2 separate regions of the Homo sapiens genome follow, and region 1 is linked to region 2. Evidence: fine-mapped QTL for protein levels in blood plasma. A gene starts in region 2. The other region holds a variant in brackets. All regions are shown on one strand. Distances are from middle to middle.

Region 1 (4,385 bases), 700 kb after region 2:
CTGCAGTGAGCTATGATTGAGCCACTACACTCTAGTGTGGGTGACAGCAAGACCCTATCTCTAAAAAGAAACTAACAGAACTGAAAAGAGAAATAAACAGGTCCACAGTTGCAGTTGATGATTTCAGTAAACCTGTCTCAGGATACATTAGAACTTACAGTCAGAAAATCAGAAAGATTATAGAAGAACCTAATGCCAGATGATATCAGAAGCCAACAAGATCTTTTTTTTTTTTTTTTCCCGAGACGGAGTCTCACGCTGTCACCCAGGCTGGAGTGCAGTGGCGCGATCTTGGCTTACTGCAACCTCCGCCTTCCAGGTTCAAGCAATTCTCCTGCCTCAGCCTCAAGTAGTGGGGACTACAGGCGCCCACCACCACGCCCAGCTAACTTTTTTTGTATTTTTAGTAGAGACAGGGTTTCACTATATTGTCCAGGCTGGTTTCGAGCTCCTGTTCTTGTGATCTGCCTACCTCGGTCTCCCAAAGTGCTGGGATTACAGGCATGAGCTTGGCCTAATTGACATTTTTATAACACTTGACCCAGCAGCTGTAGAATGAAGAAAATCTGCCAAAAAGTACCACATTCTGGGTCATAACAAATCTTAACAAATTTAAAAGAACTGAAATCATGCACAGTATGCTCTGTGATCATACTGGAATTAGAGTAGAATAATAGGTACAGGAAGGCTAGGCACGGTGGCTCATGCCTGTAATCCCAGCACTGTGGGAGGCCGAGGTGGCCAGATTGCTTGAGCCCAAGAGTTTGAGACCAGCCTGGGCAACATAGGGATACCTTGTCACTACAAAAAAATACAAAAAATTAGCTGAGTGTGGTAGTGCATGCCTGTAGTCCCAGCCACTCGGGAGGCTGAGGTGGGAGGATCACTTGAGCCTGGGAGATCAAGGCTGCAGTGAGCCGTGATTGTGCCACTTTACTCCAGCCTAGGTGACAGAGTGAGACCCTGTCTGTCTCAAAAAAAAAAAAAAAAAAAAACCTTTTGTGATTCTTAACCCATTGTGACCAAATGGTTCTTAGGTAGGGAATGTCTATGTAGTAAGTCTCCTTATTAATATTTTCAAGCATGAATAATTAGTTCTTTCCAGTGTGGTTCTTACAGACATTTGCAGGGTTACCATGTTTTCCTTCCTTATGAACACTCCCATCTTTACACTGAATTTGGAGTTTTCAGGTCTTGCTCTTAAGTCAGATATCAAAAGAAAGACTGAGAAGCAGACTTGGTGGCCAATTATTTGCATTACAGTGTTGAGAAAAAAAATAAAGCCAGGCACAGTGGCTCACATCTGTAATCCCAGCACTTTGGGAGGCCCAGGTGGGCAGATCACCTGAGGTCGGGAGTTCAACACCAGCCTGGCCAACATGGTGAAACCCCGTCTCCACTAACAATACAAAAATTAGCCGGGTGTGGTGGCGCACGCCTGTAATCCCAGCTACTCAGGAGGCTGAGGCAGGAGAATTGCTCGAACCTGGGAGGCAGAGGTTGCATTGAGCCGAGATTGCACCACTGACTCCAGCTTGGGCAACAAAAGCGAAACTGTCTCAAAGAAAAAAAAAAAAAAGAAAAAAATAATTGCTAGTAGATGTTTTTTCCTAAATCATTTAGCATTTACCAACTGTCCAGACCAAAGGTCATTTTCAGCTAGGAAAGTTCTGATTTCAACCTCTCCATTGGCCCATACGCAGCACAACTTATCCTGTTCCCAAGTACTCATTGAAGAACTTGTTTACTTGGCTGTCATTGACACCAGATGGGCTTGTAGACACAAAATGCCATAAGGATGACAGTTA[T/C]CAGCAGGATGCTGACAATGGTTCCCATCAACACCAGGTTCTGCCTGCACAGCACCACACAGGGCGGGCTTTGCTCCAGCAGATCCATGGGGCTCAGGGCCTCTGCCTGCCCCACCAGGAGGCTGCACAGGCCAAGGCACAGCCACGGCAACGCCAGATGCAGCATCTTCCCCTGTACTTTTCTTTATACTCAAAGTGTTTCATAATTTAAAATGGAAAAATAAATGGGTGCAGCATTCCACAGTCTCATGATAGACTGGCTGTAGGACCATGCAGGCATTGGACAGAGGTGTACTTGTGAAAAAAAAAAAAAGACCATGCAGGCAGTTTGTTAAATGGATCTGGAGCTCTACTCTAGACCTACTTACTCAATGATTATGGCCACCAGATGGGAATCTAGATTCAACAAACCTCTCCAGAATGATTCTGTTACATAGGCAGGTTTAGGAAGCACTCTGACTATTCTACAGAAATGCCTAAAACAGAGTCCTATAGGACTGACACCTCCATTGTGCTTCCTGTGGAACTTCTCTTAATATAGTCTACAGTTGTATTAGCTCTTGGTGGGACGACAGTCCACAGAAAGGAGACAAACTGGAGAAGGATCTTCAACATGTTATAGAAGAACACGTGAAAAAACTGAAAGTATTTGGCCTAGAATAAGGAAGACATGTAGCAATTATCAAATATCGCAAAGTAGGGCATGGATATAGAATTGGGATTAGGCTTAAATTTCTTGCTGTGACTCATGCCTGTAGTCCCAACACTTAAGGAGGCCTAGGTGGGAGAATCACTTGAGCCCAGGAGTTCAAGAACAGCCTGGGCAACATAGGCCCCATCTCTACTAAAAAAATAAAAAATTAGCCAGGTATGATGGCGTGTACCTATATTCCCAGCTGCTTGGGAGGCTGAGGCAGGAGGATCGCTTGAGCCTGAGAAGTCACGGTGGGGTGAGCCATGATCATGCCACTGTACTCCAGCCTGGGCAACAGAGTGAGGCTCTGTCTCAAAAGAAAAGAAAAAAATAATAAATAAATTTCTTTAGTTTCACTGGATGGAACCAGTTTTGGACCCAAAGAAGGAAAGGCTCTAACTATTCAATAATAGAATGGTTTACTTTTTGGAAATAGTGGGTGCCTTTTTCCTGGAAGTAGAGGTTTTCAGGAATGTTAGAGAATTTCTCCATGGGCTGGGAAGTTGGCATAGATAAAATAAAATAGCCATTTTCATTCTAAGGGCTTTCTTTTTCCTTTGTGGATTATTTTTTGTTGTTGTTTTCACGTAAGTATTTCAGTTTTCTCATTTTTCTACAGTGAACATAGAATTCTTAAGCATTTCTTTTTTCTTTTTTCAGAAGCAAACAATGCATATTGCCTACTCTTTCCTCTACCCCCAATTGTGTGTGTGTTTTTTTTTTGTTTTTTTTTTTTTTTTGAGAGAGTCTCACTCTGTCGCCCAGGCTGGAGTGCAGTGGCATGAATTCCACTCATTGGAGCCTCCACCTCCCGGGTTCAAGCAATTCTCCTGCCTCAGCCTCCCAAGTAGCTGGAATTACAGGCGTGAGCCACCATGCCCAGCTAATTTTTGCATTTTTAGTAGAGATGGGGTTTTGCCAAGTTGGCCAGGCTGGTCTTGAACTCCGGACCTCAGGTGATCCGCCTGCCTTGGCCTCCCACAGTGCTGGGATTATAGGCGTCAGCCACTGTGCCCATCCCCAATTGTCTTGAAAGACCTTTCTTTTCAGCAAGGAATACTTTTTCCATCCCTTATTCCTGTCATTAGTGCCATTTCACCAAGTCTGAGGGATACCCATGGGATCATATTTACCTCTTTTTGTTAAAATAAGCAATTTTATTCATCATTGATACGCTGTGCATTTTATAGTTTTTCTTACCTACTTCGTTTGGAGAACTGTTTTATTGTTTTTTTTTGTTTGTTTTTGTTTCTTTTGAGATGGAATCTCACTCTGTCGCCCAGGCTGGGGGTACAGTGGCACCATCTTGGCTCACTGCAACCTCCGCCTCCCAGGTTCAAGCAATTCTTCTACCTCAGCCCCCCGAGTAGCTGGGATTACAGGCTCGCACCACCATGTCCAGCTAATTATTGTATTTTTAGCAGGGATTGGGTATCACCATGTTGGCCAGGCTGGTCTCCAAACTCCTGACCTCAAGTCATTCGCCCACCTCAGCCTCCCAAAGTGTTGGGATTACAGATGGGAGCCACATGCCCAGCCCTCTTTACTCTTTAAACTAATATGTAATCAGCCTGGAGCACATCATTATAATAATATATGCTAAATAAAAGCATTCTTTGGTGTAATAGTTTAAGTGTCTGGTAGATTATTGTAATTTTTTTTTTTTTTGAGGCAGACTCTCACTCTGTCGCCCAGGCTGGAGTGCAGTGGCGCGACCTCGACTCACTGCAACCTCCGCCTCCGGAATTCAAGCGATCCTCCTGCCTCAGCCTCCCAAGTAGCTGGGATTACAGGCGCCTGCCACCATGCCCAGCTAATTTTTGTATTTTTAGTAGAGACAGGGTTTCACCATATTGGCCAGCCTGGTCTCAAACTCCTGACCT
Region 2 (4,377 bases):
CTTTGTCATTATGCAAGAATGGGGTTTGGAATATAGGATCAGAGTACAACCACTTTCCAAAGTTGTAGTTTAAAAATTATCCTTTGCCTGTTTGGATGGGAACATTCTAGTATTGCCTGTTCAATATATGTAATCAAACCCACCAAAAAATCCAACCACTGTTCCTACTCCGGAACTTGGGGTTTATCAGACTTGAGAAGGGAAAGCAGAGAGGAGTGGTTGGGCCGATAACTAGGAGTGGAGAAAATTGATGTCAAGGACATTGAAATGGCATCTGTTTTTACCCAGGCTAATTACATGTGTAATGAATGGCTGATGAACCATTATTAATTTCAAGCAAATCTACAGTTTGCTCTTGGGAAAAGAGCTCTAGTGATACAGATAACTTCCTGTGATGAGCCGATTCTGAATCTCTGCACCCTCTTTATTCCCATGTAAATGAGCACATTCTTAGTCTCCACACTATCTAAAATGATTGTAGGGGCAAAATGAGAGAGGGAAGCATTTAGGCAAAAACAAGGGGGTTATTTTATGCATAAACATCCATTCTTTGGGGCTCCCATCATTTGTGCCAGGGACAGAAGCATCCTTTCTCTTCCATCACCCGTAATCAGTGCTCCCAGCTGGCAGCCTGGCACTGGAGCCTTCATCTCAGTGCCAGTGCAATAAAGGAGTGGTCTGTGGGAGGCTGTTTCTGTATTAGGTATAACATTGTGCTAAGAAAAACAGCCAACTACTGATTTCATGTCCGTTTCCCTATGGGAAATTACTGGCCATGGAAGGAGAATATGGTTGGTTTTTCCTGGGCAGTCCCCGGAACTTAGAAAGCCATTTCTCCCCAGTCTTGACCTCCTGCCTGCTTACTCCTACCCATGGGTTGCACACAGACTCCCCTGTAGCCCAGTGCTTGTTACCAGTTGCTGGCCAGCAACAGCCCAGGGGGATGGCAACACCCACCTAGCCGTCTGCCAAGCCAGGAGGTCAGCACATGAGCACACAGTGGTGTCTGCCCTCTAGGCCAAGGTGCACAGTGTTAGGAGCCTCTTGCTCCACTCTCCAGATCAGCCTGGAAACCAGAGCTTCCCTCGTCTTAGACAAACAGATGGCCGTGGGCGATGCAGAGCCCTGAACTGCTGAGGGTGCTCCTTCCATTCTCGCCCTTCCCCAAAAAACATACACCAAACTTACCCCCAATCACAGCATCTGAGACCACAAAGCCCCACGGACACAGCTGCCCCGGGTACTGCCTGCCTTCCCCTTTTCTGGCCTCTGCAAACTAGCCATTCACCTGATGAAGCCCCTGGGGCAGTACCTTGGAAACCCCTGAGAGGAGGAGTTGAAGGAGGCTCAAAGCCTTTCAAGGACAGTGTGCACTCTGCCTGCCTCCTATTCTCTCCTGTCCTCTTAAGCCCAGAGTCTACAACAAAATTGTGTACCGCAATTCTCAGAGCTCTCTAACTTTAACCTTTCCCACCTTCCCTAGAACACATTTTTGGGTGGGGATCATCTGAGAGGCCCATGGATGAGTCCCCAAGATGACCTCTGTGGGTGACCAAGACAATCTTGTCTTTTGAGGCACCTGGAGTCTCTCATCCTTTTTTGAGCTGGGCTGTCCTCAAAGCAGGCCCTTACCTCTTATGTGGCCTCATCTTTAGAGGTGGGAAGTGGGCCCACATCCCCCACCCCAGCCCTGCAGTGGAGCTAGCGTGGGCCTGCTGGAGGACAGAACTGTGGAACAGGGTCCTGTGAGGATATGTGGCAGGGTTGGCGGGGGGATAGGGGGTCATGGAGGAGCCTACCTCTGAAAAGCATTCCCCTAGCTGCTACTGAAGCTAAATACAATTTATTTCATGCTGGGGGACAGAAAGGAGCAAGGGAGAGCAGTCACCTGCTCCTTATCTGGGCTATTTTCTTAGCAGACCTCAAAATGAGACCATGGTGGGAAGCTGGGCTGGGGCCAAGGGAAGAAGCTTGCCAGCACTGTCAGCCGATGAGCCCAGGAGAAAAAGCTGGGCCTAGTCTCTGCCCCATTCCTGTTCCACACCTGTCTGTACCCCTGTCTCTCCTTTCCCTGGCTCTGCCAGACTCTCTATCTCCCTGGGCGCCAGCCTCCCCACCCACCCCTGGAGGGCGGGGCTTGGCTGCACCCACGTGTGGTGGAGTTAAATGCTCCTAGCCGGCAGAGGAGCTAGGGAGTGTGGCACTGAGCCGGCTCAGGCAGAGACGCGGCACCATGGCTAGCAAGAAAGTCTGCATTGTAGGCTCCGGGAACTGGTAAGCAGCTCTGTCAAGTGATATGGGGGAAGGGTAGGCCCCCCAAGACAGAGGTGGGTAGGAGGCAGAATGGGTGGGAAAGGCCCTCAGGTTCCTGTTCAGCCCCTGCTGCTATCTTCTATCATAGCAGCACAGGACAGACGGTGCCCGGCCCTCTCCTGACCCCCGCCCTCCTGGGCAGCTGCACCTGTTCACCATGGGAAGGCGTCTCCAGAGCTCTCTATGTGAAGAGCCGCTTGAGTTTGGGGGTGGGAAGATGAGAAGTGGGGCTCCCTTCTCTAGTAGCAAAGGGTGAGGAGACTGAGTCTCCTTTCTACTGCCAGGTCACTGGGGACTATTTGTCATGGGAGTGGAGGTGATAAGGAAGGTAGGTAGGAGTGAACAGCCTGGGGGGCTGCTGTGAGATCCTGAGGTGGGGCGCTGCCCCAACTCCTGCCACTGTTCCCTCCTCCTGTACTTTCCTGTGCTCCCCCTCCCACCAGGGGCTCAGCCATCGCCAAGATCGTGGGTGGCAATGCAGCCCAGCTGGCACAGTTTGACCCACGGGTGACCATGTGGGTATTTGAGGAAGACATTGGAGGCAAAAAGCTGACTGAGATCATCAACACGCAGCATGAGAATGTCAAATACCTGCCAGGGCACAAGTTGCCCCCAAATGTGGTGAGCCCCAACACCCTGCGAAGAACAGGGAGAGGAAGGGAGGGCCAGGAGTTGGAGCCGACCTTACTCAACAGGTGCCTCCTGCTGAGAGGGCCGCTTCAGGTGCAGCAGGACTTGGGAAGGTCTCAGGAGGGCTGCTCTGGGCCCTTTCCTGAGGACTGAGGAGAACCTATGCTTTCCCCTCACAGGCTCCCAGGCGGGTGGGTGGGGAAGGGATGGGAGAACAAGTTGGTCTCCATGGCAGCCAAAGACTGGGCTCCCAGACTTGGGGTCCAGTAGTGCCTGCCTCCGGCACTAATCCTGTTACTCATTCACTGAGTGAGTAGCCGACTTGGAGGCTGCTCCTTGGACTTACGGTCTTTGGTCAAATCCACGTGGCTCTCCCCACCTGGAAAGGGGAAGCAGGGAAGAGAGCAGAAAGGCTGGGGCTCCCCCTTCCCAGCTGGGGTTCCTGAGGAGCTGGGTGATGAAATCTTATTTGAGCTCTTTCTTTTGCCAAGCCCAGGCTGCTTTTGGCCTCCCGCACTGTCCCACAGCCAAGGGATAGGAGAGTGCTGGGATGAGGTTTCCAGGAGTCCTCAAGAGCCCAGGACAGCTGGAGGGAGACAGAGTGGTAGCTGGGGGGAGGGAGTAGAGTGTCTTATTCCTCCAAGTTCAGTCCTTCTAGATTCAGTCCCAAACAAGCCTTCCTGCTCCCCTACCAGCCTCACTCTTTGGCTCCCAGATCTCCTGAATAGGGTTCCACAGGGGCTAGGGGAGGTCTGCCAGGCCCGCGAGCACTTGGTCACCCCCACAGGTGGCTGTCCCAGATGTGGTCCAGGCTGCAGAGGATGCTGACATCCTGATCTTTGTGGTGCCCCATCAGTTCATCGGCAAGATCTGTGACCAGCTCAAGGGCCATCTGAAGGCAAACGCCACTGGCATATCTCTTATTAAGGTGCCAGGGACACCTTCATGTGGATGGGGGAGGGTGCGGCTCACTGTTGTGGGGTTCAGGGTGGGTGAAGCAAGGAGAACAGAAAATGGCAGACGCAGGCCAAGAGTTTGCTGGAGAAAAGAGAGGCAGTTGGCTCTGGAGAGGCTTAGGAAAGCAGTGAGGTGCTGGGGGTCACTGGAAGGGAGGCTGAAGGGAGGAGACGAGATTGGTTTGGAGGTCCTCTCGGGGAGTTTCGGAGGTATAAAGGAATGCCTGGGAGATATGAGAAGCGGGCTGGTTTGAGAAGTGTGAAGAGTAGCTGGTTTGGAGCAGTGACTGGTCACTGAATGGCAGTTTGTTGGGGCAGTCAGGCGGGGTTGCCTAGGGATGTGGAGGGGACCCGTTGCCTTGGAGAAGTAGACTGGTTGAGGGTATGTGGCAGGACAGTTGGTCACATGCTGTCTGGCCTCCTCACAGCAAACTTGAGCTGGGTTGGAATGGGGCAGGACCTGTCGGGAGGGACACAG

Which allele goes with the higher level. Positions count from the first base shown, and alleles are read on the strand shown. Strength reflects both the effect of a copy and how common the allele is.
In carriers of allele T in region 1, the plasma level of the protein whose gene starts at base 2,191 in region 2 tends to be higher than with C alone (moderate association).

The links. PIP is the posterior inclusion probability: the model's chance that the variant is causal. The UK Biobank Pharma Proteomics Project read protein levels with antibody pairs (Olink). The fine-mapping took linkage between variants from a reference panel, not from the people measured, so its PIPs are less certain.
Region 1: its variant is fine-mapped to the plasma level of the GPD1 protein (UK Biobank, PIP above 0.99).

Annotation. Positions count from the first base shown.
Region 1 is chr12:50,804,588-50,808,972 of GRCh38, forward strand. All of the region lies in intron 3 of ATF1 (activating transcription factor 1), which reads left to right. Among named protein-coding and RNA genes, the nearest start is that of TMPRSS12, 36 kb to the right of the region's middle. The variant T/C (reference allele first, on the strand shown) is at 1,809.
Region 2 is chr12:50,101,818-50,106,194 of GRCh38, forward strand. GPD1 (glycerol-3-phosphate dehydrogenase 1) reads left to right here and starts at 2,191. Exons shown (of 8, transcript NM_005276.4): 1 at 2,191-2,274; 2 at 2,757-2,934; 3 at 3,731-3,871. The coding sequence starts at 2,234. RefSeq lists an enhancer at 1,201-1,250.